Regions from separate parts of the Homo sapiens genome. Here region 1 is linked to region 2. The links come from fine-mapping of genetic effects on gene expression. A gene starts in region 2. The other region holds a variant in brackets. All regions are shown on one strand. Distances are from middle to middle.

What was found.
Region 1: its variant is fine-mapped to the expression of PALM2AKAP2 in whole blood (INTERVAL, PIP 0.98).

Annotation. Positions count from the first base shown.
Region 1 is chr9:109,991,160-110,006,391 of GRCh38, forward strand. All of the region lies in intron 6 of PALM2AKAP2 (PALM2 and AKAP2 fusion), which reads left to right. Among named protein-coding and RNA genes, the nearest start is that of C9orf152, 210 kb to the right of the region's middle. RefSeq lists an enhancer at 14,134-14,635. The variant T/C (reference allele first, on the strand shown) is at 7,720.
Region 2 is chr9:109,773,458-109,788,689 of GRCh38, forward strand. PALM2AKAP2 (PALM2 and AKAP2 fusion) reads left to right here and starts at 6,741. Exons shown (of 11, transcript NM_007203.5): 1 at 6,741-7,076. The coding sequence starts at 7,032.

The DNA of each region.
Region 1 (15,232 bases), 220 kb after region 2:
CAGCATTTTCTCTATGTCTCAGTTTTTCTTCTTCCTCTAAGAGCTTTTTATAATAGCCTTAACCATCATCACATTTTTTTTTTTCTTTTTTTTTTAAGACAGAGTCTCCCTCTGTCACTCAGGCTGGAGTGTGGTGGCGTGATCACGGCTCACTGCAGCCTCAACTTCTTGGGCTCAAGGCATCCTCTCACCTCAGCCTCCCGAGTAGCTGGGACTACAGGCAAGCACCACCACACCCAGCTAATTTAAATTTTTTTTTTTCAGAGATGGGGCCTCCCTGTGTTGCCTAGGCTGGTCTAGAACTCCTGGACTCAAGCAATCCTCCTATCTTGGCCTCCCAAGGTGTAAGGATTACAGGCGTGAGCCACCACACTTAGCCACCACACTTGGCCACCACGTCTTTAAGATTATGAATAAAAAGGTGTCACTTTCGAAGATTCTCAAAGGGAGTAACTCCTCCCCCTAATACTGAGCTGCAGTCCATCTTAAGCCTTGCTGGTATACATCTCAAAGAAGAAGATATTGAGGATAGCTTGTGCAACGTAGCTCTGGTGGCCGCTAAGGAAAGAGCAAACAGCTCTATGGCTGCAGACATCAGGCTTTAAATGACACCAGGATGGTGAATGACCTAGGAACATAAACAAAGGGATGTCTCAGCTGGGACATAATCGCATCCTGGAAGCTTGAAGGCTGTTTTGTAGAGGAAGAATAGACGTGTGTTTGACTCCAGAAGACCATGCTAGGACCAGTAGTTACATAAAATTAAATTCTAGCTCAGTGTCGAGAAGAACATTCTGACCTGAAAGTTGCTAAAAATGGAATGGGCTGTGTATTGGTTTCCTAGGACTGCCATAGCAAAGTACCACATATTGGGTGGCTTGAAACAACCTTGTTTTTTTTCTGGGTTGAAATTAATTTCTTCTCTCACAGTTCTGGAGCCTAGAAGTCCAAAATCAAGGTGTTGGTAGGGCTATACTCTCTCTGAAGGTCTAGGGGTGCTTCCGGGCCTCTCTCAGCTTCTGCTCCCCGAAGCATTGCTTGGCTTGTGGTAGCATAACTGTCATCTCTGCCTCTGTCTTCATGTAACCATCTTCTTGGCTGTCAGTCTCTCTTCTTATTAAGGACTCCCAGTTATATTGGATTAAGGCCCACCTTGATGACCTCATCTTAACTTGGCTACATCTGCAAAGATCCTATTTCCACATAAGGTCATATTTTGAGGTACTAGGGGTTAAGATTTCAAAATATCTTTTTAATTTTATTTACTTTGTTTATTTATTTTGAGACAGGGTCTACTTCTGTCGCCCAGGCTGGAGTGCAGTGGTGTGATCATGACTCACTGCAGCCTTCCTGGGCTCAAGTGATTCTCCTATCTCAGCCTCCTGAGTAGTTGGGACTGCAGGCATGCACCAACACAACCAGCTAATTTTTGTATTCAAAGTATCTTTTTGAGGAACACAATTCAATCCATAACAGGCTGCCTTTATGAAAGTGAGTTCCTTATCCCTGGAAGTGTGCAAATGTAATCAGAGTTTTTCAAAATACTTGAAGAGGTGTAAGCGCTAAAGAGAGAATGCAACTAGATGACTTCTAGCATCTCTTCTGACCATAGCATTTCCTAATGCTATGAGTCCTGTAGTAAATGACTCTACTAAATCCTGGGACCACACTTGGGAAGACCACACAGTCTTGGTGAAATGTCACATGCACGGAAGCATAGTCTAGCTTCCAAAAACCATTGAAAGGAGTTTCAATCTTTTCTTTTAAATTCATATATATGTATATATATATATATAGAGAGAGAGAGAGAGAGAGAGAGCAGAGAGAGTTTATTTGGGCCAAGCCTGGGGACTGCAACCCAGGAGCATAGATTCAAGTTGCCCTAAATATACACTCCCTCCTTTTAATTCTTAAAGAACATCAATGAAGATCCCTTTTTCTGTCCCCTGCAGCTGCTCCTCTTGGAGTCTCTCTGTTCAGTACTCTTTTGGTCACACATGACAGAATCCTAATTCAAAGTGCCTTAAAAAAAAAAAAAAAGATAATATCTTCTTGCAAATTTGAAAAGTCCAGGAGTTGTTGTTTTGGGTTGGACTCCATTTCCCAGCTTTGCCTTCCTCTCTGTGGGCTTTCTCTTCTGCATAGTGTTTCCACTAAGAGGTGGCCACCAGGGTTCCCAGGTGTTATTTAGCAATTGAGCAATTTAGCAAACTCATTGAGAAGAGTTTCCTTCTTCCAGCATTCTAAGGGAAGTCCCAGGGCTGGCTCTCATTGGGCCAACTCTGTCACGTGCATTTATCACATGCCCATCCCTAAACTTGTCAGTAGGACACTGACCACCTCCTGAGGAAGAAAACTTAGGAATGGAGGCACCTCTATGTGAGTTGCATAAACTAGGAATAGAAGAGGGTAGCAGCCCAAAGGGAAATTGGAGTGCTATTAACATAATAAGGGGGAGTCCGTGTTGGGAGGGCCAAAGGCCAAAACCATCACTGTCTACTCTGATTCCTCCCCTCACACCACTATTCTCTCTTCCTTCCTCTCCTCATTCTCCCTCCCCTTCCTCTCTCCCTTTCTTCTCTCCCTCTGTTTTTCTCTCTCTCCTTTCCTCTCTCTCTCCCTCTTCTTTTTCACTCTCTTTCTCTCTGTCTCCCTTTCTTCTCCTCCTCTCTCTTTTACTCTCTCCCCCTCTTTTTCTCCCCTCACATCTCTCTTCATCTCTCCCTGTCTCTCACCCTCTTCCTCCTCTCCCTCAAGTCTAGGCAGCTCAGCCTCTCTCTTTTTTCTCCTTTCTTTTTCCTCCTGCCTCTCCAGCTTATCTCTTCCTACTTATTTTCCCAATTCAGTATTATAAATACCTAGCTACTGGGCTGGCAAATACTGAACTCTCCCTTAAGGGTAAGGACGGGAAAGAAATGGAGCCTGCCAGTGCCAGGTTCCTTTAGCAGCTAAGGGGAGGGAGGACGGGAGGAACTCCCATTGGTAACTTTTATTCACATCGTATATCAAATCATCAGAGTGATCCTGTGTCATTTTGAGTTGTGAGTGCTTTAAAAATTTGCATGTGTGTCCAGGACAGAGATAGATGAATTTGCACATGACGGCAGAGGAAGACTTTGGGATGTATCCACTTTGATGCTAAGTTATGGATACATCCCAAAAGACTAGACAAACAGTATCTGTGTTTTAGCTTCCAGACTTCTGTAGTGGGTCCAGCCAAACTCCCGAATGGGTTTTTAAACTTGAGAAACCTCAGGCTTTTTTGTTTCCAATCATACAAGCACTCTTGAATTGAAAGCAACACTGGGTCATAAAGCAATATGAAAACTACATAACTAATATCTTGATCCTTCTGCTTTCAGCACATTTAGCCCCACAGCAGTTTAGACTCAAACCCTCTAAACAAACCAACCCCCTCACCCCACTCACAAACAGCCTGCCAAGAGCATTGAGCGTCCAGTCCCTGGACTCCATCCTGACCACCTCCTACTCCCCCGTCCTGCATCACTGGTCTTGCTTTGGTCATCTCTGTGTTCTCCATTGCTCTGTCTCCCCTCCGCCACCCCACACCCACAGGCTTGGTGAGTTGTCCCCCAACACTCATATTTAGACTCTCCCTTCCTCAAGCCCCCTTGCTCTCTGACTCTGCTGGGAGGCTCTGATCCTGAGCCCTGCCATGGACCTGGTTCTGGGAGTTGACCTTTGCCCCACACCCATCAGCTGCGAGTCAGGGGCTCTCTTGTTCTATGCCTTGACCTGGTGGTACCCAAGTGCATTCATTTGCTAGAATTCATTTGCCATAACAAAATACCACAGCATGTCTACAAGCCACCAGGGCTGCCATGTATAACACTGGGTGGATGATTACCCTAAAACCCTTCTGGAACTTTCCAGATAATTCTTTTAAAAATATTCTCTTTTATAGGCTTCTACATGATTCAAGTGAGTTTCCTAAATGGCTGGGTGAGCTCCCATAGGTGACCTGACACTGCCACAGCCCTCTCCCACCCAGGGACTGGAGAGGAAGCTCTGGCAGGACACCCAGAACTCAGGGTGGAAATGGAACATCCTGGCCACCTACCCAGGAGAGGCCTCATGTAGTAAGAAAAGGGAGAGGAAGGAGCAGTGCTAGAAATCAGATTATACAGACAGAAAACCACCTCCCAGACTGCCTGATGGCAGGGGGTGGGTCTTTCCATCTTAATCTTTCCAGCCCAAGCACCATGCCTGCAACACAACAGAAATGCAAGGAATGCAGTTGAGGTGGTGCATTAGTCTATCCTCACGCTGCTAAAAAAGACATACCCAAGACTGGGTAATTTATAAACAAAAGAGATTTAATTGGCTCACAGTTCCACATGGCTAGGGAGGCCTCACAATCATGACAGAAGGTGAAGGAGGAGCAAAGTCACATCTTACATGGCGGCAGGCAAAGAGAGCATGTGCAGGGGAACTCCTCTTTATAAAACCATCAGATCTCACAAGACTTATTCACTGTCATGCAAACAGCATGAGGAAGACCCGTCTTCATGACTCAGTTACCTCCCACCAGGTCCCTCCCATGGCGTGGGCATTATGGGAGCTACAATTTGAGATTTGGGTGGGGACACTGCCAAACCATATCAGGTGGGGAGTGATGTGAGCACAGCTACATTTCTGAAAAATAATGATGGTCATGGAATGGAAGACAGATCTGAGCTGAGGACCTTGGAGGCCTGAACTGGTGCACTTGCCATGAGGATGGAGAGGAAGGATGAGGCAGGAAAGATACTGCAGGTCCCAGCTTCTCCATGAATCCAAGGGCTTTGCTCTCCACTCTGCCTTCAGCCTAGTGACACAATTTATACAGCAAGAGAAGGAATGTCACAGACCACCAGATGGGTAGCTGACCCTTCCAAGAGCACAAAGACTCTAAATATGTCCCTGTCACCACCTGCTGTTTTAACAACTAGTTGTTTAATACATCTCCTCTGGATGGAAACTAGATCCAAGACAGTGACTCTGGGTTTTGTTTAATTTTATGTCACATTTTTAGGGAGCAAATGTTAAATATGTTTCCAGCCTAGTAAAATAAGGGTGGCAAACTTAATCATTAGAGTATGTGGAGAATATAACAGGATCTTTTATTGGACCTGGAAAGGGGCCCCACTGAATGGTAATATTTGTGAAATAATTGGAGAGGAAACCAAGTTTTAAGCTATTAGTTCTCTAACCTTTGAGTAGGGAAAAGGAACAGTCCCTTGAACTTGCTGCAAGTCTCATGGTTGCTTAAAAAGGCTTTAATTTCTGAGGACTGGCACAGGCTAGCCAAAACAAACCATTTCCAAAATTAGTTTGGGCCTCAAGGGTCCTGTAAAACTCATTTTAAACAATGTACCATGATCCTTTTTTGCTCTCATTTTGTGCAATTGGAGTCTGCTTCCTTCTTCATATACAGAAGGATGTTTAAAACGCACCTTTGAGGGTAGGGTGTTGAAACACCCAGTTTTCTGACCCACTCTCAGATGCTATGACAGAGAAAAGCTCTTTTCTCCTTCAAGAGAGGTCCAAGCTTCTGAGTGTACTGTGGTAGCTGGAAAGCTATTGCAGCTTCATGCCCAGATATGCATCTGTGTGTGCACATGCACATGGGTGTGTGCATGGGCTGTGCACATGTATGTGTGTGGGTTGGCATGCGTACACACAAGCCTGCACATAAATGTCTAAGAGTGCATGTGTGTGTGCATGTGTGTACATAAGAACATATGGGCCAGGTGTGGTAGTTCACGCCTGTAATCCCAGCACTTTGGGAGGCTGAAGCAGGTGGACCACTTGAATCCAGGAGTTCAAGACCAGCCTGGCGAACGTGGTGAGACCCCATCTCTACTAAAAATACAAAATTTAACTGGGCGTGGTGGCATGTACTTATAGTCCCAGCTACCCAGGAGGCTGAGGTGAAAGGATCACTTGAGCCCAGGAGGTTGAGGCTGCAAGTGAGTCATGATCACGCCACTGCATGCCAGCCTGGGTGACAGAGCAAGAGCCTCTCTTGAAAAAATAAATAAATATATAATAAAGTAATAAAAAGTAAATAAATAAATATTGATTCCATCACTTGTTAGCTCAGTCATTTTAACTTTTGCAAGCCTGTTTTCTCATCTGCAGAGCGGGGATAATATTGTGTCTACCTCATCATGTTGTATGAGGATTAAGTAAGGTAATACACATAAAGGCTATATATAGTACATCCTCTGGATAGTCTCGCTGTCATTACTGCTACTATTGCAGCCCCGCTGGCAAACAGAGCAAGGGGGTTGAGAAGACATGGGGCCACACTGGCAAGACATTGAGGGTTTTATATACACATATATATATTTGAGATCCTTTAACATCCACTCAGAGGCACTCAGAGAGGACTCCCCTACTCAAGGAGAAATAGTTGGGGTTGCAGGAGAGGTTTCCAATAACCTATGGTGAGTTCGAGAAAAATAACTTATCCAAAAGATGGACCTTCCTGTTTCTCAATGAGCTCTCCTAAGAGAGAGCAGAAGAGGGAGAGGGAATTGCCCTCTATTTGGAGGCCGCAGGGCCTGGTCCTCATAGCTATCCTAAGGAAGAGAAAGCTCAGGACCAAGGAAGAGCCACCACCTGGAGTGGGGAGGGTGGGACGGGGTTGCATCCTGCCCTCCTCCTTCAAACCCGGGGCAGAGCTTCCCATCCAGAGGAAGCAGGCCCCATCAGCTTATCCTGGGGTGGGGCTTCCTAAAGCCAAGTGTTTAAAGGCAGATCATTGTTCTGAAGTTCCGCTAAGTTCTAATGCCCACCCTGCTGAGAAATCCTCCAAGAACAAAGTGAGATTTTAAAAATCCACAGGGTTACTTGGAGCCAAAGGCAATTAAGAGGAAGAGAAATAACTGGCCAAGTCTCAATGTGATGGCTGTCTGTGCAGAGACTCTAGTGAGGAAGAGAGCTAACCCCATTCTTTTTGTTGTGATCAAGCAAGATGATTCCCCAGTGGGCCAATCTTTTGCCTATAAAATGGGGTTGATATGATTTTGTCCAGGAAGAAGTCTGGTTTAGGAAAAGCAGAGGCATTCTTGTCTCCTTCAGTCCCAGCTTAGTGGCTACTGACTGTGAGACTTTGACAACTTATTTTCCAACTCAGAGCCTTGTATCTCTCCTTGAAACCCAAAAGGCCGGGCTCCAGACTTCCTCAAAGTTCCTTTGCTGTGTCTATGACAGTGGGCTGATGAAGGTAGAAGCAGGGGTGTGATGAGGACGAGAATAATCAGGATGGATAGGAAGGCTGGAAGGCTGAGAAGGGTATACCAAAGTCCCAGCAAACAAAAGCGAACACTCAATAGCCGTGGAGGGCGCCTCACCATGTCCTCTCCATAAGCCAGGCTACATAGGTCATCATCTGGGATCTTATTTTTCTGAATTGTTTGTGGCTCAGCTCTTCTTAATATGGTACTTTCTGACCAGGGCGGGGGAGTGGGGAGCCTGTAGTCTCAGCTACTCAGGAGACTAAGGTGGGAGGATTGCTTGAGCTCAGGCATTCAAGGCTGCAGTAAGCTATGATTGCACCGCTGCCGTCCAGCCTGGGTGACAGCGAGACCCTGTCGCAAAAAAAAAAAAAAAAAAGGGGGGATAGTCCATTCTAGCTGCCCAATGTGCATGACCTTGTGAGGTAGTAAGAACCATGACCAGGAAAAGGCCATGTCATCCATCAGGTGACTT[T/C]GTAGAGGAGGCTTCTGCCCTGATGGGAGAGTAGCTTAGGCAGCCTCGAGGCCCCTTCCACTTCAATTTGGGAAATATTTAATGAGCTCCCACTGTGTGCCAGCCCAGACTGTGCTGACTGAGGCCTGGGGTGGGACAGCAGGGAGGACAGTCCCTATCTTCAAAGTGCTCAGGGTCTGGCTGGGCACGGTGGCTCACGCCTGTAATCTCAGCATTTTGGGAGGCTGAGGTGGGTGCATCACCTGAGATCAGGAGTTTGAGACCAGCCTGGCCAACAAGGCGAAATCCCGTCTCTACTAAAAATACAAAAATTGGCTGGGCTTGGTGGCGTGCACTTGTAATCCCAGCTACATGGGAGGCTGGGTCAGCAGGATCACTTCAACCTTGGAGGTGGAGATTACAGTGAGCCAAGATCACACCAAGATCACACCACTGCACCACTCCAGCCTGGGTGACAGAGCAAGACTGCCTCAAAATAAATAAATAAATAAATAAAATAAAAACAAATAAAAATAAAAAAAATGTGCTCAGGGTCTCACCACCCAGACATGGTCTAGTCTAGTCCACCCATGTGGTTCCTGCCTCTCCAGTTTAGGGGGATGGACTGAGGCCTGGGACCATCTGTTCCCAGTGCCCTCTGCCTTCTCTCTTGTAGCATTCTTCTTTTCTCCTTCGGCACTCTCTGAAGCTCCTGTCGCCCAAAACTTCCTGCCCAGAACTAACACTTCTCATTTAACAAACACTTGGATGAGACTAACTGTGTATAAGCCCAGTTCCTGCCCACAGGTGCTTTGCGTGGAGAACGGCCCGCTGAAGCAGCATCGACCAGGAAGCACCATGAGACACATGTCAGGGCTCTCCCTGCCTAGGCCCTAATTTGTGTCCCACTAAATGGGGCCATGATCAGAACTGTGAGTTCCCAGCAGAGGGTGGAGGTGGAGATGCCACACTGGGGCTGAGCTAAGACACCACCAAGGAGGAGCTGGCAGCAGAAGGCTGAGTCCCAGGATCCCCTGTGTACTTAGCTTACACAAATTTGAGTGTAGATTCTTCCTTTTCTTTCCTTTTTTTTTTTTTTAAAGACTGAAATTTTTGTATTTATTGAATGGACCATTCCATTTTTCTCTATTTTTTTTCTTTTTTTAATTATACTTTAAGTTTTAGGGTACATGTGCACAACATGCAGGTTTGTTACATATATATACATGTGCCATGTTGGTGTGCTGCACACATTAACTCGTCATTTAACATCAGGGATATCTCCTAATGCTATCCCTCCCCCCTCCCCCCACCACACAACAGGCCCCCGGTGTGTGATGTTCCCCTTCCTGTGTCCATGTGTTTTCATTGTTCAATTCCCATCTACAAGTGAGAACATGTGGTGTTGGGTTTTTTGTCCTTGCCATAGTTTGCTGAGAATGATGGTTTCCAGCTTCATCCATGTCCATAAAAAGGACATCAACTCATCATTTTTTATGGCTGTATAGTATTCCATGGTGTATGTGTGCCACATTTTCTTAATCCAGTCTATCATTGTTCGACATTTGGGTTGGTTCCAAGTCTTTGCTATTGTGAATACTGCCGCAATAAACATATGTGTGCATGTGTCTTTATAGCAGCATGATTTCTAATCCTTTGGGTACATACCCAATAATGGGATGGCTGGGTCAAATGGTATTTCTAGTTCTAGATCTCTGAGGAATCGCCACACTGACTTCCACAATGGTTGAACTAGTTTACAGTCCCACCAACAGTGTAAAAGTATTCCTATTTCTCTACATCCTCTCCAGCACCTGTTGTTTCCTGACTTTTTAATGATCCCCATTCTAACTGGTGTGAGATGGTATCTCATTGTAGTTTTGATTTGCATTTCTCTGATAACCAGTGATGATGAGCATTTTTTCATGTGTCTTTTGGCTGCATAAATGTCTCCTTTTGAGAAGTGTCTGTTCATATCCTTCGCCCACTTGTTGATGGGGTTGTTTGTTTCTTTCTTGAAAATTTGTTTGAGTTCATTGTAGATTCTGGATATTAGCCCTTCATCAGATGAGTAGATTGCAAAAATTTTCTCCCATTCTATAGGCTGCCTGTTCACTCTGATGGTAGTTTCTTTTGCTGTGCAGAAGCTCTTTAGTTTAATTAGATCCCATTTGTCAATTTTGGCTTCTGTTGCCATTGCTTTTTGTGTTTTAGACATGAAATCCTTACCCATGCCTATGTCCTGAATGGTATTGCCTAGGTTTTCTTCTAGAGTTTTTATGGTTTTAGGTCTAACATTTAAGTCTTTAATCCATCTTGAATAAATTTTTGTATAAGGTGTAAGGAAGGGATCCAGTTTCAGCTTTCTACATATGGCTAGCCAGTTTTCCCAGCACCATTTATTAAATAGGGAATTGTTTCCCCATTTCTTGTTTTTGTCAGGTTTGTCAAAGATCAGTTAGTTGTAGAAATGTGGCATTATTTCTGAGGGCTCTGTTCTGTTCCATTGGTCTATATCTCTGTTTTGGTACCAGTACCATGCTGTTTTGGTTACTGTAACCTTGTAGTATAGTTTGAAGTCAGGTAGCGTGACGCCTCCAGCTTTGTTCTTTTGGCTTAGGATTGACTTGGCAATGCAGGCTCTTTTTTGGTTCCATATGAACTTTAAAGTAGTTTTCTCCAATTCCGTGAATAAAGTCATTGGTAGCTTGAGGGGGATGGCATTGAATCTATAAATTACCTTGGACAGTATGGCCATTTTCATGATATTGATTCTTCCTACCCATGAGCATGGAATGTTCATGCTTTTGTTTGTATCCTCTTTGATTTCATTGAGCAGTGGTTTGTAGTTCTCCTTGAAGAGGTCCTTCATGTCCCTTGTAAATTGGATTCCTAAGCATTTTATTCTCTTCGAAGCAATTGTGAATAGGAGTTCACTCATGATTTGGCTCTCTGTTTGTCTGTTATTGGTGTATAAGAATGCTTGTGAATTTTGCACATTGATTTTGTATCCTGAGACTTTGCTGAAATTGCTTATCAGCTTAAGGAGATTTTGGGCTGAGATGATGGGGTTTTCTAGATATACAATCATGTCATCTGCAAACAGGGACAATTTGACTTCCTCTTTTCCTAATTGAATACCCTTTATTTCCTTCTCCTTCCTGATTGCCCTGGCCAGAACTTCCAACACTATGTTGAATGGGAGTGATGAGAGAGGGCATCCCTGTCTTGTGCCAGTTTTCAAAGAGAATGCTTCCAGTTTTTGCCCATTCAGTATGATATTGGCTGTGGGTTTGTCATAGATAGCTCTTATTATTTTGAGATACGTCCCATCAATACCCAATTTATTGAGAGTTTTTAGCATGAAGGTTGTTGAATTTTGTCAAAGGCCTTTTCTGCATCTATTGAGATAATCATGTGGTTTTTGTCATTGGTTCTGTTTATATGCTGGATTATGTTTATTGACTTGCATATGTTGAACCAGCCTTGCATCCCAGGGATGAAGCCCACTTGATCATGGTGGATAAGCTTTTTGATATGCTGCTAGATTCACATCAAATAAAATACTGATGTGCCAGTATTCTATTGAGGATTTTTGCATCGATGTTCATCAGGGATATTGGTCTAAAATTCTCTTTTTTTGTTGTGTCTCTGCCAGGCTTTGGTATCAGGATGATGCTGGCCTCATAAAATGAGTTAGGGATGATTCCCTTTTTTTCTATTGATTGGAATAGTTTCAGAAGGAATGGTACTAGCTCCTCTTTGTACCTCTGGTAGAATTCAGCTGTGAATCTATCTGGTCCTGGACTTTTTTTGGTTGGTGAGCTATTAATTATTGCCTCAATTTCAGAGCCTGTTATTGGTCTATTCAGAGATTCAACTTCTTCCTGGTTTAGTCTTGGGAGGGTGTATGTGTCGAGGAATTTATCCATTTCTTCTAGATTTTCTAGTTTATTTGTGTAGAGGTGTTTATAGTATTCTCTGATGGTAGTTTGTATTTCTGTAGGATTGGTGGTGATATCCCCTTTATAATTTTTTATTGCGTCTATTTGATTCTTCTCTCTTTTCTTCTTTATTAGTCTTGCTAGCGGTCTATCAATTTTGTTGATCTTTTCAAAAAACCACCTCCCGGATTCATTGATTTTTTGAAGGGTTTTTTGTGTCTCTATATCCTTCAGTTCTGCTCTGATCTTAGTTATTTCTTGCCTTCGGCTAGCTTTTGAACGTGTTTGCTCTTACTTCTCTAGTTCTTTTAATTGTGATGTTAGGGTGTCAATTTTAGATCTTTCCTGCTTTCTCTTGTGGGCATTTAGTGCTATAAATTTCCCTCTACACACTGCTTTGAATGTGTCCCAGAGATTCTGGTATGTTGTGTCTTTGTTCTCGTTGGTTTCAAAGAACATCTTTATTTCTGCCTTCATTTTGTTATGTACCCAGTAGTCATTCAGGAGCAGGTTGTTCAGTTTCCATGTTGTTATGCGGTTTTGAGTGAGTTTCTTCATCCTGAGTTCTAGTTTGATTGCACTGTGGTCTGAGAGAGTTTGTTATAATTTCTATTCTTTTACATTTGCTGAGGAGGGCTTCACTTCCAACTATGTGGTCAATTTTGGAATAGGTGTGGTGTGGTGCTGAAAAGAATGTACATTCTCTTGATTTAGGGTGGAGAGTTCTGTAGATGTCTATTAGGTCCACTTGGTGCAGAGCTGAGTTCAATTCCTGGATATCCTTGTTAACTTTCTGTCTCGTTGATCTGTCTAATGTTGACAGTGGGGTGTTAAATCTCCCATTATTATTGTGTGGGAGTCTAAGTCTCTTTATAGGTCTCTAAGGACTTGCTTTATGAATCTGGGTGCTCCTGTATTGGATGCATATATATTTAGGATAGTTAGCTCTTCTTGCTGAATTGATCCCTTTACCATTATATAATGGCCTTCTTTGTCTCTTTTGATCTTTGTTGGTTTAAAGTCTGTTTTATCAGAGACTAGGATTGCAACCCCTGCCTTTTTTTGTTTTCCATTTCCTTGGTAGATCTTCCCCCATCCCTTTATTTTGAGCCTATGTGTGTCTCTGCACATGAGGTAGGTTTCCTGAATATAGCACACTGATGGGTCTTGACTCTTTGTCTAATTTGCCAGTCTGTGTCTTTTAATTGGAGCATTTAGCCCATTTACATTTAAGGTTAATATTGTTATGTATGAATTTGATCCTGTCATTATGATGTTAGCTGGTGATTTTGCCCGTTAGTTGATGCAATTTCTTTCTAGCATCGATGGTCTTTACAATTTGACATGTTTTCGCAGTGGCTGGTACCAGTTTTTCCTTTCCACGTTTAGTGCTTCCTTCAGGAGCTCTTTTAGGGCAGGCCTGGTGGTGACAAAATCTCTCAGCATTTGCTTGTCTGTGAAGTATTTTATTTCTCCTTCACTTATGAAGCTTAGTTTGGCTGGATATGAAATTCTGGGTTGAAAATTCTTTCCTTTAAGAATGTTGAATATTGGCCCCCACTCTCTCCTGGCTTGTAGAGTTTCTGCTGAGAGATCAACTGTTAGTCTGCTGGGCTTCCCTTTGTGGGTAACCTGACCTTTCTCTCTGGCTGCCCTTAACATTTTTTCCTTCATTTCAACTTTGGTGAATCTGACAATTATGTGTCTTGGAGTTGCTCTTCTCGAGGAGTATCTTTTTGGCATTCTCTGTATTTCCTGAACCTGAATGTTGGCCTGCCTTGCTAGATTGGGGAAGTTCTCCAGGATAATATCCTGCAGAGTGTTTTCAAACTTGGTTCCATTCTCCCTGTCACTTTCAGGTACACCAATCAGATGTAGATTTGGTCTTTTCACAAGTCCCATTTTTCTTGGAGGCTTTGTTTGTTACTTTTTATTCTTTTTTCTCTAAACTTCTCTTGTCACTTCATTTCATTCATTTGCTCTTCCATCACTGATACCCTTTCTTCCAGTTGATCGAATTGGCTACTGGGGCTTGTGCATTCATCACGTAGTTCTCGTGCCGTGGTTTTCAGCTCCATCAGGTCCTTTAAGGACTTCTTTGCATTGGTTATTCTAGTTAGCCATTCATCTAATATTTTTTCAAGGTTTTTAACTTCTTTGCCATGGGTTCGAATTTCCTCCTTTAGCTCGGAGTAGTTTGATCGTCTGAAGCCTTCTTCTCTCAACTCGTCAAAGTCATTCTCTGTCCAGCTTTGTTCCATTGCTGGTGAGCTGCATTCCTTTGGGGGAGGAGAGGTGCTCTGATTTTTAGAGTTTCCAGTTCTTCTGCTCTGTTTTTTCCCCATCTTTGTGGTTTTATCTACCTTTGGTCTTTGATGATGGTGATGTACAGATGGGGTTTTGGTGTGGATGTCCTTGCTGTTTGTTAGTTTTCCTTCTAACAGTCAGGACCCTCAGCTGCAGGTCTGTTGGAGTTTGGTGAAAGTCCACTCCAGATCCTGTTTGCCTGGGTATCTGCAGCGGAGGCTGCAGAACAGCAGATATTGGTGAACAGCAAATATTGCTCCCTGATCATTCCTCTGGAAGTTTTGTCTCAGAGCAGTACCCGGCTATGTGAGATGTCAGTCTGCCCCTCCTGGGGGGTGCCTCCCAGTTAGGCTACTCGGGGGTCAGGGACCCACTTGAGGAGGCAGTCTGTCCATTCTCAGATCTCCAGCTGTGTGCTGGGAGAACCACTACTCTCTTCAAAGCTGTCAGACAGGGACATTTAAGTCTGCAGAGGTTTCTGCTGCCTTTTGTTTGGCTGTGCCCTGCCCCCAGAGGTGGAGTTTACAGAGGCAGGCAGGCCTCCTTGAGGTGCGGTGGGCTCCACCCAGTTCAAGCTTCCTGGCTGCTTTGTTTACCTACTCAAGCTTCAGCAATGGCAGGCACCCCTCCCCCAGCCTCGCTGCCGCCTTGCAGTTTGATCTCAGACTGCTGTGCTAGCAATGAGCGAGGCTCTGTGGGTGTGGGACCCTCTGAGCCAGGCGTGGGATACAATCTCCTGGTGTGCCGTTTGCTAAGACCATTGGAAAAGTGCAGTATTAGGGTGGGAGTGACCCGATTTTCCAGGTACCGTCTGTCACCCCTTTCCTTGGCTAGGAAAGGGAATTCCCTGACCCCTTGCACTTCCCAGGTGAGGCAATGCCTCACCCTGCTTCGGCTCATGCTTGGTGTGCTGCATCCACTGTCCTGCACCCACTGTCCAACAATCCCCAGTGAGATTAACCCAGTACCTCAGTTGGAAATGCAGAAATCGTTTGTCTTCTGCGTCACTCATGCTGGGAGCTATAGACTGGAGCTGTTCCTATTCGGCCATCTTGGCTCCACCTCTTTTCTTTTTTTTTCTTTCATTCTTTCTCTCTATATCTCTTCTCTTTCCTCTTTCTCTCTTTTCCTCTCGCCTGCCTGCCTTCCTTCCTTCCATTTTCTCTCTCTCTCTTCCTTTCTTTCTTTCCTTTCCCTCCCTTTCCTTCCTTCCTTCTCTTTCTTTCTTTCTTTCTTTCTTTCTTTCTTTCTTTCTTTCTTTCTTCTCTCTTTCTTTACAAGAT
Region 2 (15,232 bases):
TCCCACCAACCAGTCAGCATGTCCCTAAGCCCTACTTTTGAAGTATTTTATTTCACTGTAGTTCTTCACTCTCACAGCATTTGTAGTTCTCAGAGCACTTTCTCATTCACGAACTTTAAACTTATAAGAATCTAATGGGACTAGTTAGCTATCCCTGTTCCCAGTTTACAGATGGAAAACCTATTCCCATTTTACAAATAGAGAACCTCAGTTCAGAGCAGGCAAGTGACTTGTACAAAGTCACACAGCAAGTGGCAGAGTTAGGATTAGGACCTAGGATTGATACTTTGTCTTATGTTCATTCCACTCTACCATGAGCTGCTTTGGGGAAAGGCAGTTTGTCCGGGAGGCCCTGGCTGGGAGGGTCACACATTAGTAATGAGCAATTTTTGAGACTGGCTAGGATCCATTTAGTCAATATATGGAGGGTGTGCAAGGGGCAGTTGAGACCTCTGTCATTCCCAAAGGTGTCAGGCAGGCACAGCATCCATAGGTGGTAGGAGCTGAAGCTAGGCTTTCCCAATTTCATTATTCATTCCCCAGCCAGCAGGGTGGACAGGATTTAGTAGGCAGGCCACCATCCCTCCACTGCCAACCCCGCAGGAAATTTCTCTCTTGTCAGCAGTGCTGACTTGCAGAATGTACACGGCATTATTGAAACATGGTTAACAATGAAAGTGTTGATGGCCACGCTACCAAAAGGGATTCCAAGCTGACGGAGCACATCGTGGTCATTGTGCTAAGGTAAACCAGACTGGCCCCTAAGCTCTCTGAGAAACCAATGACCTGACTGTGTCTACTGGCATCAGATAACCAGGCTGGAGTAGAACCTGGCCTTCCCAAAGACTTTCTAGTTTGTAGCTAATTCATAGCCAAACCTAGAATTGTTTCTACCACAGAGCACCTTCAATATGTAGGCATGTAGCTCTCTTCCTAATACTCAAAAATTAAGCTGTTCTTCCCATATTTTCCTAGGATTTAATCTATCTCCTCTTAAATTTTTAAATTCCTTCTTATTTATAATTGTTAGATTGACCCACACTAAAAGATAAGACTGTAGATGTCTAAGAATCATTAAAAGCAGAGTCTAGTAAAGGTGTTTCTAGATAATAAATGACATAGGGCAGAATCCTCTTGTTTAAAAGATGGAAAATGAGAAGTACTGACTAATGGGAGGAATGTTAAGAATACCGATAGCTCAACCCTTAAAAAAAAAAAAGCCTACATAAAAGGGTGGATAAAATGAAGTCATTCACTTAAGTTGGTCCATGGCATTTTTCATGAAGCAATGATTGGGTTGAGTGATCAAGATTACCATTTCCAGAGCACCTACCATGGCCAATCACAAGCCTTTTACATCTGTTAACCTTATTTATTACAACATCCCTGTGAGAGGGCTGAGATTCCAACTTGTCTTCAGAGTTCCTGTCTTTTCTGTGTCATATCTACCTCCTACTTCCTAATCCTACTTTTCAAAACTTTTGTCATTAACAGGACTACCACTCTGGACCAACATCTGAATAACACAGTATTTAAACTTATCAGATATGACAACCCAATGAGACTGGACATCACATATTTTCATTTCCATCTTAATGTAAGGAAACTGTCATTCTAATCTATTATGTGATTTGTCCATACTACCACAACAAAATAAATGTAGAATGATCTCTAACCATTTGGCTCTAATTGATTCCCGTACACTCTCCTTATCTACCCAGTTTCCTCTAGGGACTCATGTTGATCAACTGACATTGCCAAAGCTAACCAAGAGAAAAGGAAGTCATCACAGTGAAATATTGATATTCATTTCTAGCCAGATTTCCAATTGCTCATTTTCAATCTGCTATGTAAAGACCTTAGCCACTATATACCTTAAGCAACATTCAGCCTAGTTTATTTTTCACAATGGTGCTGTTTTCTGACTTCTTTCTATCTTCTTGCTCCATGGGGACTCCCTAAATGAATCTATCATTTGGATCCCATGGAGAAAAATAGCATATACTTGAAATCCCATCAACTTTCCCAAAGAGCTAACAACCACAGGAGCCAAGAGGACCACAGGCAATGTTCTCCTTCTTTTGATTCTGTGCAGCTATCACATATGTTTTAAATGACCATTTATTTTCAAAAGATCCCAGGCAAAAAAGAACTAACACAAATATAAACATTTGAGGGGATCCTGGCATTCCTTTCAAAATTACTTTTGTCCAAGGGAAGCTTCAGGTTGCTGGGAAATGTCACACTCATAGCTCTTGCTCAACAAGACTGACTTTTACTCACACAACGGGCCTTGGCAAGTCATTTCCCTTTTGGTATACAGAGCTCTTGTTTTCCCCACAAAGGAATTGGCTATGATCGTTTGTGATTCTCAAAGGACTCATGTTCTAAAATAGATTCTGAAATTTTTATTAACAAAACATCTATTTTGCATATCTAGCATTCTGTATCCTTTTCGTATAATGCTTTGCAATGAAGCATCTATCATAAAAACCACTAAACCGTACAGATGGTGTTTATGCAACACAATTTAATGTCCCAGCAAGAACTAGTGATTTGTTACATACATTATGCATCATTGTGATGTATATATCCAGATTTTAAATGTTTGGAGGGCAAATAGTCACCAATATCATTGTGGCACTAGACTACGATTTTTTTTCTTAATACCAGGCCATGGCCAAACATCTAATATAAAATAATTATACAATATGTTTATTAAATAAATAGCATAGTTTGGGTTTTAAATGCCTGTGTTTGTAATGGGTTCAAAGATTTTAAAATACTAAAATTTAGAAAGTTGAAAGAAGTGCTGGAAGAGGAAAAAAGATTTTCCCTCTGCTCCTTGGCCAACCATCAGGCAGTCATTTCATGTGCCTTCCTGTTTCACCTAGGGTTCTTGGTCCCAAGCAACAGAAATAGATTCTGGCTGATAGGAGCAGAAAAAGAATGAAATGAAATTGTATTAGATAGCTCACAGGAGAGATGGAACGTCCAAAGAAGGAAGCTTGGGCAATGGGTACAACCAAAGGTGAACTAATAGCCTGAAGGAATTCTCTAACATGCTCAGTCTCCAAAATTCTTGGCAGGCACACATGCCTGACTGAGCCGAGATTGCCTGCCATACCATGGCTTCAGGGGGATCTGGGGAACAAGTGTCTGATACCTCCCAGCTTCTACCACAGGATGTGGCTCTGCCTCTCACTATGGCTTTTAATATGGGAAATCCCCAAAGATGGGAAGGAGTTCACAAATTGGCCAGCCAGAGGAAAAAAAAATGTGTATATGAACAAGTCTGTTACACTTCCTACCTGGCCAGAAGCATTTTGAATTTCCTCTCTTCTTTGGCTTTTTGTCTTACCTGCTTTGATAATCCGCAACACTGAATAAACACAAGCTTTTTTTATTGTGGGTCTCAGGGCAGTTAAAAATCACTTAGGAAGTACACACTATTGGTCATGAGTCTTTAGTCTATTCCTAGTAAATTCAATTAGTACAAAGGTTCTAAACCCATCCCTAACTCCCACATCACCCTGTAGAAATTTAATTCTGTACAGGTCTTCAGGAGATTCTGATGCAGATTTCTGATTAGGAACCATGTTTTAGTCTTTCTCATCTTTCACAGTTTCTTTACAAACGATTTCTATTTTTCTGAAGCCCCAACCCTACGCCATCAGTCTTAATCAATGACTCTTTGTTCAATTGGGAAAACCAGTCCATCTGATGCAAATTCACTTAACCTCTCTCCTGAGAGTTGAACTCAAACTTTCTTCTTGTCTTTATCCATTTCTTCCTCCTTCCCTACTTCGTTATTCCTTCTTCCCAAGGCTAACTGGCTAATGTGATGCTCATCTGAATGTCCTCTTGACTAATTAGAGACTTTGACTAATATTCACCTTCCTTTTTGACTGTATCTTTGGCCTAATTTCCCTGTTGTCTAATTTGCTTTGACCCCCAAACATCCAAGTCTTGCCTGACCTAAAAACCCTTTCCACTAGACCCTGCTTCCCATGGGCTATGTTCCTGTTCTCCACCTTCATCTTTCACATCTGAAGAGCTGAAAGAAGCAGTTTGTACTCATGGTTGCTTCTCTGATCTCTCGCTCATCCCCATTTTTGTTTGTTTTATTTTCAACATTCACTTGGTAGCAGTCATTCCTCACCTCTTGTAAGTGCTTCCAAGCTCATCTTCTGGACACAAGTCACTCATGGCTTACTGACAGCCCTCCAATGGTCTCTTCTTCATCTGCATCCCCCATGACCTTTCAGAAGCATATGACCCTGTTGAAAACCTCTTTCCTTCTTTGTGGCTTTTGGTGCAAATCCCTTTGAATTTTTCCTTCTACTTCTCGGATGATACTTTATCAGTCTTCTTTGCTGGGCTCTCTCCTCTTCTTGCTCTGTTTTCTCATCCTGGCTGTTCTCATTTCTTTAGCTGTAACCGCAAAGTAGATGACACTTGGATGTGTGTCCCCAACCCCGATTCTTCTATTCAGAGTTCAGATATTTCCAACTGATCACTTCCAAAGGGTGCCCAGGCCCTTTTCCTTCTCCATCTCCCCATTCCATCACTCCTTTTAAAAATTTATTGCGGTTAAAAATACAAAACTTAAAATTTACCATTTCAACCACTTTTAAGCATATGGTTTGATGACAGTAAGTACATTCACACTGTTGTGCTCAATCATACCTTTTAAATATCTGTATAGCTGGGAGTAGAAGGACCATTTCTGGTTCAATTGTTTATTCCTGGGGCCTGCTTCTATCTCCATATCATTGGCCAAGCCTGGTGCTTAATGGTTAAGAGCATGGGCTCTGGTGAGTGTGATCTGAGTTTAAATCCCAGCTCTATAACTGTAGCTGAGTCTTTCAACCTCTCTGGTCTCATTTTCCTCATCTTAGTATTCTCTACAATCACTCTGCTGAAGCAATAACAGCTTTGTTTATTTGTGAGCAAACCCCTTTAAATAACTTGTCCTGCTGGGGCTTGTGCTGGAAATGAAGAAAAAAGGATGCATTTGAAGAAAAGGATGGGCTTAGCCAGAAAGTAGAAGTTTCTGATATATTGGAGTGGGATGTAGAATCTGGCACTGGCTTGGATTTATTAAACAATCAGCTCCACCTACACTTGTTATGAAAAAGATGGGAAAACAATCCATCAGTAAACGATTTTGGTGAGTGCTTCCATCTTTGGTCAGAGGAGTAATTGTTCATCAGTGACAGGTGAACCTCTGTGAAAATTGAAAGGGCAATTTAGTTGAAATGGAAGCATTTATTCAGGAAACAGGTGATCTGGGAAAATTTGATGTGCATTTTTTTTTTTTTTTTTGAGACAGAGTTTCACTCTTGTTGCCCAGGCTGGAGTGCAATGATGTGATCTCGGCTCACTGCAACCTCTGCCTCCCAGGTTCCAGTGATTCTCCTGCCTCGGCTTCCCAAGTAGCTGGGATTACAGGTGCCTGCCACCACGCCCGGCTAATTTTTTGTATTTTTAGTAGAGAAGGGGTTTCACCATGTTGGCCAGGCTGGTCTCGAACTCCTGACCTTAGGTGATCCACCCGCCTTGGCCTCCCAAAGTGCTGGGATTACAGGTGTGAGCCACCGCATCTGGCCTGATGTGTATATCTTTTAACATGCCTTTAAATCCTATGGCTCTAAAGAGGCCATATTAGTTATTTCAGTGTTTATTTCATTTGATGAAGAAACGTTTGCATATGAATGTTGGGAATTCTAGCAGGTCCTGCCTCAATGTGAAGAGGCATTTTTTTTTGCTTTTGGCATTGATCTCCTTTTGGACTGGGCCTGATCCACTTCTTACATCCAGTCCAGGACCTGTCACAAAAGACTCACATTAGTACCACATGGTATCCTGTTTTAGTAAAGAATAGGTGAAATATTTTAGTGAGTAGATCCTACTTTTCCTTTCAGATGCAATGAACAGAAGACCCTGAAAGGATTTCAATCCAGAATGTCACAGGATAATAAGAGCAGATGTCTGTGATGCCCTTTACAAAGCACCTTTACATACTGTCTCTCATTCGTCTCTAATGACACCTATGTGATCCTCCATTTTTTCAGATGAGGAAACTGAGGTTCAGAGTGATTAAGCGAGTTGCCTGAGATTTCACAGCTAACACATTGTGAAATCTAGTCTAGCACCCAGGACTAAAAACTCTCGGCTTCTTTTAAGGCCACATATCGCCTCACCAGAAGGGTGGCCTCTCTGGAGATATACCCTACCCTCGGCCGACTTGATATTGAGAACTTGGTCATCTTAAGCATGTGGGCCACTTGGGCAAGGCAGCCCTTCCCAAATTGTAAATGTCCCCACGTGGAGCTCAAGCGTCTGGCTTGAGCCAGAAGGTGCCCTGAACACTCGGTGGCCCCAGCCCCCACGTAACAGCACGTGCTCGGGTCCCACATTCGGTCAGACGCCCCTCTCCACTGGCATCTGCCCGGTGGAGGCGCCACTGCGCTCTGCCTCCGCCCCAGCAAGCGCGTGTCCACGCGGGCGCGCCACGCCAGCCGTGCGCCCCAGCGGCTCGCCGTGCGCCCGCGCCCCAGGTGCCCACTGGCTCGCGCGCCCTCCGTCTGCGCCTTGGAGACCCGCGGCGGCGATCGCTCGGAGCCGCCTTGGACCGCGGCCTCGGGTCCATCACACTCCAGGGGCGGAGCGAGGCACCGAGACGTCAGGGCGGAGAACTAGCGCCGGGCTAGCGCGCCCTCCCGGCGGCTGCCGGCGTCCCACGTCCTCGGCTGGCGCGGCCGGCGGCGGCGGCGACCGGGAGATGCAGTGAGCGGCGGCGCTGGGGCGCAGCCAGGCGGCCGGGAGGGCGGGGGCCAGAGGCTGAGCCCGGGCGAGCCCGCCGTGCGCACAGCTCTGCCCGCCGCCCCTGGAGCGGATCCCCAGCCGTCCCTGGGCGTTCTCCCGGGTTCTAGCAAAGCCCCCCGGGGTGCCCATCAGTTTCCTTGGGTGACTACAGCGTGTGTTTTTTCTTTCCTCTTTCCCCTGCCTGTGTGCCCTTCTCCAGGATGGCAGAGGCGGAATTGCACAAGGAAAGGCTGCAAGCCATAGCAGTAAGTCCACTTTCATTTTATTTTCTTGCTCTATTGTCTGGGGTGGAAGGGGGCCCCCGAGGGTTTCGGGGCAAGCGGCATGCCAGCACAGTAGCCGCAGGTCATATGTTCCAGGGGCTAAAACTCTGTCAGGGCTCAGCTAGGCTGCCTTTTCTTTTCTATGTCTATAGATGGAGACCCCCAAGGGCGCGCTTTGGACTGAGGATTTGAATGTGGAAGATTGGCTTAAAAAAAGATGCTTGCTGCTGGGCTTTGGGGAAGGACTAAACAGAGGCTTGGGGTGGGGGGACGACTCCAGGAATATTATGACCGAATGCTCAGGCATACGTTGGCTTCATAGCCTGGAGAACCAAGAGAAGGGTGACCTGAACGGTGGCTGCCATCCTCTCTGCGGAAGCTGTCCTCCTGTTAAGTGGAAAACCAGGAGTCAGCGACTCAGCCAGCCACGCGGTAGAACCTCCTCCCAGAAACCGGGAATGTTAGTTTTCCCTTCTCTGTTTGATATTGACAAGGGCACTGGCACAAGCCACCACCCTGGAGGTCTGGGGACTTCATACAACTGGGTCCTGGTTATAATATTCCATGAGAGCCTCCTTCTTATGGTGTGGAGTATCTGAAAACCTATTTTCAGCCTACAAAGGAGTAGTCAGTTTTGGCAAAGTTCGTAGGCACTTTCAGAAAAGTGTACCCATGTGCATCTTGGGTTTAAAAAAGAACTCTCTGAGACTGCCTAGATTTGAGCAATCTTAACACAGTGTTGCCAATGATCCACAGATGTGGTATTTTTACTGGAGCCACCACAGCTGGATTATATATTTCCTTCGAGGATGAGGGAATGATTACTGCTGCCGTATGAAATAGTAACAATTAAAAAAGAAGGTCCGTTAACATATTGGCATAAAAGAATCTCCAGACATTCTTCCACCTAAATACATTTGTGTTTTTCAGTTCGGAAGTTCTCTGGAAACACATATAAATTTGTTGGAGAAATAGTGTGTAATGTTTTGGAACCAAAGTATATTAAAGCGTTTTCCAAAACCTTTTTGGACAGATTCTTCATTGGGAAAATGCACACAGACCCTTCCTTTTTTAGAAGCATTTGACATGGTCTCCAAGGCTCTGAGACCCTCTTTCTCAAACGCCTCAAATCTGAAATGTCTTGGAGACTTCACCACTGAAGTGAGAGAGATGTTTGCTGGCAATATTGAAATGCCATGGTTTGCCTATTAGGTAATCTTTGAACGTGGTGCTCTGAACTCAGAAAGGTTGTTTTTTTCTTCTTTCTCTTTCCCCCTGTGCATGTGTATTTTGATGGTTTGTGAAGTTATTTGTGGTTTCTAAAGTTGGTGGCAAGGCAGCATGGCCAGTGTGTCATGAACTTGATAAGAATGGTGATATTGAGTTAATGGTGCCATGTAGCTGGTGGGTGTTTTGTGTGAACTGGATAATAGGCTGCTTTAACTGTTGATGCAGTGGCTGTTCCCATTGGCTGCTGCTGAAGGCTTCCAACAGTTGTCACATTTTCTGCCTTTGCACAACCAGCTTTACTGGATGCCTGAGGAACAGCTGAACTCCATGAAAGGACTTGCTTTCCAAACATGGAGCCAGTAGCTGCTAACACTGGGGTACCCTTTTCCAAGTGCGGTTGAGTAATCCCAGCAGAGGCCAAGTCGATTTTCCAAGAAAGATCTAGGCAAATCTTTGGGAATTCTCTTGAGCATATAAGAATACACACAAATACTCACTTGTGCCTCTTCAGTTATTGAAGAATTGAGTTTGTCCTGTGTATCTGGGGAGCTGTTGATTATTCTCATGAATGTGCACCTAATACAGTCTGCCCTCCCTATTCATGGGTTCCATATCCACGCCTTCAGTCAATCTTGGATTGAAACTATTGGAAAAAATAATAGATAGCTGAGTCTGTACTGAACATGTACAGACTTTTTCTTGTCACCATTCCCTAAATAATACAGTATAATCAACTGTTTACGTCGCATTTACAGTGTATTAGGTATTATAAATAATCTGAAAATGATTAATGTATGTGGGAGGATGTGAGTAGGTTATATGCAAATACCATGCTATTTTATAGGGACTTGAGCATCCTTTGATTTTGGTATCCAAGGGGGTCCTGAAACCAATTCTCTGAGGATACTGAGGGATGACTGTATGATGTTGTCAGGACAGATTTGCTAACAGCGTGTGTTTGTTTGTGTGTGTGTGTGTGTGTGTGTGTGTGTGTGTATGTGTGTGTGAGAGAGAGAGCCAATTAAGAGACAGAGGGAGTTGGGTGGGGGGACTTATGGCCACATCGGTAAATGGTTTTATGCTATGCTTTGGTCTAGTGCCTACTCTTCTGAATTCTGCAAACCCTGACTCTCTCATCACTTTCCTGGAGTTCTCAGGGGACCCTGAGGAGATCACAAGCCTGCCCCCAGAACCTAGCACTCCTGAAGTCTCTCTGGAGATGTGAGGGAAGAAGACAATAGGTCCTCACATCTTCACTTACTTGGGCTTCTCTCTCAGAGGCAGAGAATCGACTGGGATTCCAGTCTGCAGGGCCTTGGGCAGTCTTTAGTCTGGGTCTCAGCTCCTTCATCTGTAGAATGGGTTCATGAGTTCTACCTCCTGGGCTGGTTGTAAGGTTTAGTTAGGATGGAGGTGAAGCACCTGGCAGGTAGCTGTCATTGGATGGTGTTGAGCAGAGCCCTTAGCTTTTGTCTGTATTGCTGTCTTGTCCTGTGGGGGGTCAGAAGCAACATCTCTGAAGTGGAATGTGTATTAATGACTTTTTTTTTTTTTTAGACAGAGTCTCACTCTGTCACCCAGGCTGGAGTGCTGCCATGACAGCTCGCTGCATCCTGAAACCATCCTCCCACCTCAGCCTCCCCAGTAGCTGGGATTACAGGCATGTGCCACCATGCCCAGCTAATTTTTAAATTTTTTGTAGAGATGGGGTTTCGCCATGTTGCCCAGGCTGGTCTGGAACTCCTGACCTCATGTGATCCTCCCACCTCTGCCTCCCAAAGCACTGAGTTTAGAGACATGAGCCACTATACTTGGTCTGAACAGCTCTTTTTTAATCCCTTCCTTCAACTGACTGAAAGTCAGGGCCCTGCCCAGCATCACTTTCTCTAACTGCTTTAGACAGAGGCAGAGATATGACTTGAGGATTCATTCATCCATTTGTTCAGTAGGTATTTACAGATTGCCTCCTCTGGGAAGGTATTGGCAACACTGAAAAGTTGGTGTCCCCAGGTTTCAGCTGCCTGAGGCTGAAACCTTTATTTCACCTTTTGCACATAATTTCTTGAAGGACAGATGTCCTGATACCTAAGATGCTTGTCACATGAACATCTGTGGAATATCCGCCCCCACCAACAAAACTGAATTAAATACTTAGAAACTACAGTGCTTTAATGGAATCTTCCATTTGGATCCAGGAACTAATCAATGAGAAAAGATGACTCTTATCCTAATTTCTGCCAAAAGAAGAGCAAGTCCATCTTTGACAATGATCTCTACACTCACATGCTCCTTTCTTCTGTAGGGATACTCCCCAAACTTTACATTTAGAACATGGTAAAAAGCCTCTGAAACAGCATGAGTGAGAATGGTAATCCCAGGGACTAATAACAACAATTGCCATTTATTGAATATTGTTCATTCAGAAAGGCACGGTGTGAAATACTTTTTGTTTTTCACCTAACGTTATTTATAGTCTAATGGAAGAAATAGAAAAGCACATAAGCAGTTACTATCCAGGAGTACTATGAAAATGAGCATCCAGGAGGAACATGTAAACCAATCTCAGAGTTGTGAAACAATTCCCCAAAAAGAAGACATTAGAGTAAGTCCTGAAAATTGGGTAAAATAAAATATAAAATAACATCATAACCTTCCCAATTACCAGGAGGCATTTGTTTATTCGTTATTTGATTATTATTTATTCAGGACATTTAGTGTGAGAAAGGGAAAGGCAAAAGCATGAAGAAGTTAAGTCAGTAGCTAAAGACACAAACTCAGAGTGAACACTGAAATGCTTTTCAGCATGTATTATCTCATTGAATCCTAATAAGAAGCTTATGAGGTAGGCACTACAGTATTACTCATATTTTATAGGTGAGGAGGTTCTAGAACTGGTCTAACATTAAACTGATAGTATCAAAGCCAGGATTTGAATGCTGCCCGCAGCAGGCCATTGGAGCCTTTGCTTTGACTGCTGCCCTGAGCTGCCACCCAAGATGGCGGCAGCGTCTCGCACTTTTCCCATGAGCACACTGTGCAGGTGGTCTCAGCAGCCTGAGTGTGAGCCACAGACTGATTCCATTGCAATGGGAAAGCTTGAGACAAGCCAGGAGGCCTACCTCCTTTTGAGAGTCTTTCAAGCCTGGATTCAGTGCATAGAAATACCCAACATAAAATTTAATGGAACGAGTAACATTCCCATGGGGAAGAAGCTGTTGTGTCTCAGTGGAAACTAACCTTGTGGGAGGGTGCTGTTATGTCTGCACATTGGAGAGGAAGATAGTTTTCTTTGGGCATGAGTGAAAATAAGTAAATGTTATATAAATTGTCTTGGGTGAAACTCCTAAGAGCCACGTGGACAAGGCTCAGGCTACACCAGGGACCAGCATGAGTATGTTTATATATGTGCGGAAATAGGAAATGCTAATCTAACCTATGCTGTTCTTTAGGGAATTTTGTCATTTAATTAGAACCCACTCTGTGAAGTAATAAAAATGATCTTTGCATTTGTGCAGTACTTTATAATTTATGAAAACCTTGTATATGCTACCTTCTTCCTGAGGTGTGTAGAGCAAATCTTATACGCTTTACAGGTGAGTATTCAGAGCTATCCAAGCTTACACAGATAGAGGTGGAAGAGTTGTAGTAAATCCCAGCCTCTCCTGACTCCCAATTCTTGTATTAGTCCGTTTTCACCGTGCTGATAAAGACATACCCGAGACTGGGTAATTTATAAGGAAAAAGAGGTTTAATGGACTTATAGTTCCACGTGGCTGGGGAGGCCTCACAATCATGGCAGAAGGTGAAAGGCACATCTCACATGGCAACAGACTGGAAATGAGAGCTTGTGCAGGGAAACTCCCCTTTATAAAACCATCAGATCTCGTGAGACTGATTCACTATCACAAGAACAGCATGGGAAAGACATGTCCCCGTGATTCAATTACCTCCTACCATGTCCCTCCCACAACACGTGGGAATTCAAGATGAGATTTGGGTGGGGACACAGCAAAACCGTATCACTTGTGTTAGTGGTACATCCAGCCTTGGAAGGGTGCTTTGATACGGGCTGAAACTGCAACTAAGATCCTGCTGGACTAAAATCTTCTGGCTGGGAGGAGAGGAGTGAGCTTGGATGTGTCTCTATGGAATATGCCCTTGTTAGGATTTCACTTTCGGCCTCTTTCATTCTTGAAATTCTCACCAAGGGGTCAGCTAGTGAGTTTATGGCTTTCATCTGATTCTATTCTCAGTCCTGCATAGACCTGGGTATACGCTGTTGGCCTAGGCTGGCTGTGCCGTGGGCTTACAGAGAAGTGCTCATTGGCTTTTCGTTGGATTCGCCTCTCCATGCCTTTTCTTGCCTGGGAGCATTACAGCCTTGAGTACCAGGCTTGGAGTGTGGGGCCAGTGGCCAAGGAGGCCACCACCCTGCTTTTGGTCCAGGCCTTTTAGGCCGACCTGCACAGCATGGGCAAAAAGTCCTTGCAATGATTTACATACTATCCAGTCCAGCTTCCCAAGGATCCCTCAGAGGGGTTAGAGACTCAAACCCAAGCCCTGTAGAAACAGGCACTGTGATTCATGTGGGGACCATCCCCATCCATGTTCCTTGTGGACTTGTGTTATTGGTATGCAGCTGTCAGAGAACTGGAGAATTTAAGATCCTGGTCATTCATCTGTTATCTTATATCTCAGAGATGCAGATGACACCCTGCTTCTAAAATTCCATGTTAAGGCCTAAAAAATCATTTGCGTGGTATATTGGTGCTGAGGAAGGGTTCAACTTGGCTGAGTCTGTGAAGCTGCCCACTGGATAGGTGACACTTTGGGCCCATGCAGGGTCATTGCTGTGTCTGGGAGTGCCAAGGCAGGCCTTACCCAGCATGCATAAGGGTCACACACCTCCCTGCTACTTATTTGTACCTCTGAGTATTTCAGTCTTCAGCTTATTGGGACAAAGAGCAGCTACTCTGACAAACTTTAAAATGCTCTGAGAAATAGAGCAGTTATCATGGAAAAAAAAAGTCATCATAGAAAAAGCTAAGTGAGGGGGGTTGTGGGTTATAGTTTGTCAATATTTAAAGGAAAACCAGGGCCCAGTAGAATTGTTTCTATATTTCTTTGGGGGCTACTCAATGCTTTGGGGTCACTGCTGGCCCCTTTGAACTCTCCACATTTCACCACTGATCCCATTTGGGAATGTTGATGAACTTGCTTGGCAGTAAGAGTTGGTCATTCTGTGGCATGAAATTGACTGAGACAGCAGATGGACATTGATGCACAGAGACGGTGGTCCCAAGGGCTGTCATTGTGGTGGGGTAGTTACCAGCATGGATTTTGGTGTCAGGAAGACCTGGCGCAAGTCCTGGCCTTTCCGTTGGTATCTGTATGATGTCACTGTACCTTGGTTTCCTCACCTGTAAGATGGGGCTAATGATCATACCCACTTCAGTGTCTTGTTGTGATGGTTCTTTTAGAGGTTTCTTGGGAAATGCTCAGAGACAGCATGCATTAAGCACTCACAAACTTTCCTATTTATAATAAGCAAACCAACAAATCATAACTTATGCATCTTTAAACAGAAAGTGAACACAAAGAGTGAAAGGAGAATTTTGTTAGCCACAGCATTTTTGTCAAACTAGGAAATTAGATAAATACTAGGAAATCAGATAAATGTTGTAACTCCTGAGTTTTCAATGCATGAAGATAGTATTAATAATAAAAAATGGATTATTTGTAGTAAGCAGGAGTAGTAAACTCAACAGGTCAGGGGGCCAGCATGCAATGTAAATGAGGGACACAGATTGAGTCGAAAGTATTGGTCCCTAGAGAGCAGATGCCACCTCTCAGTTAAGATGCAGTTAATTTATGCCTTGTGAGAACGTGGGTCTTATGTTGTTACATCAACTCATTTTCAAGAGAAGCCAGAAATCTGATTTTTAACATGTGAGATCTCCCACTTAAAAAAGAACAGTATTAACTAGTTTAAAAACTTTAAAAAGATTGGCAGTCACAACACAATTCCTTTTGATCAAGAGGCCGACATTTTGTGACCTTTAGATATAGACAGAGCTTTGAACTTTACAGGATGCTTTCCTTATGCATTGATTTATTTGGATTTCATAAGGATACTGTGAAGTAAGCCTATCAGCACCCCTGAGATATTTCATAATGTTGTAATATCGGGTTGCATTTTCACCAGAGCTTTGTGAGTTTGGTGTCCAGATGTTTGGATCATTGGATAAATGGTGCTTATTTGCGATATCTTTTGACATTAAATGAGCCCTTGCAAATCACTGACATTATTGAAACTCAGAATACTCACATCTAGATAGGTAATTGCTCTCTAACTCAACCAAAACAAATCTAAACCACATCAAGTCAGCACCTTAATTTGGGAAATTCCTCTTATTAGAAAAGAATCTTTAAGAACCTATACTCAAGGTATGCAAATCTGAAATGCAAACCTGATATGAAGCCCAAGCCTAACTCATGTCAGTCAGGATGTTTGAGTTGATCCTGATTTATTATTAGCCTCAAGTAATGGACATTGTAGGGAGATTCTGCTGGGCTCAGGACTCATAGTAGCAGCAACTGCCATTTGACCGATGTTTTTGTCATATATGGTATAGAACAGTAATTCTCAAACGTTAGTGCATTAGGATCACCTGGAGGGTTCCTTAAAACACAGATTGCAAGAGCACACTCCCAGAGTGTCTAATTCTGTAGGTCTAGGGTGATGTGGCCTGAGAATTTGTATTTCTAAGAAGTTCCCAGCTGCAACTGCTATTCTGGGGAACACACTTTGAAAACGACTGGTGAAGTGTAGGAGATCAATAGTAAAGGAAGATTATGACCTGGGTCCTGATGTGCATCACATGCCCATTGTGATATGCCCAGGAGTT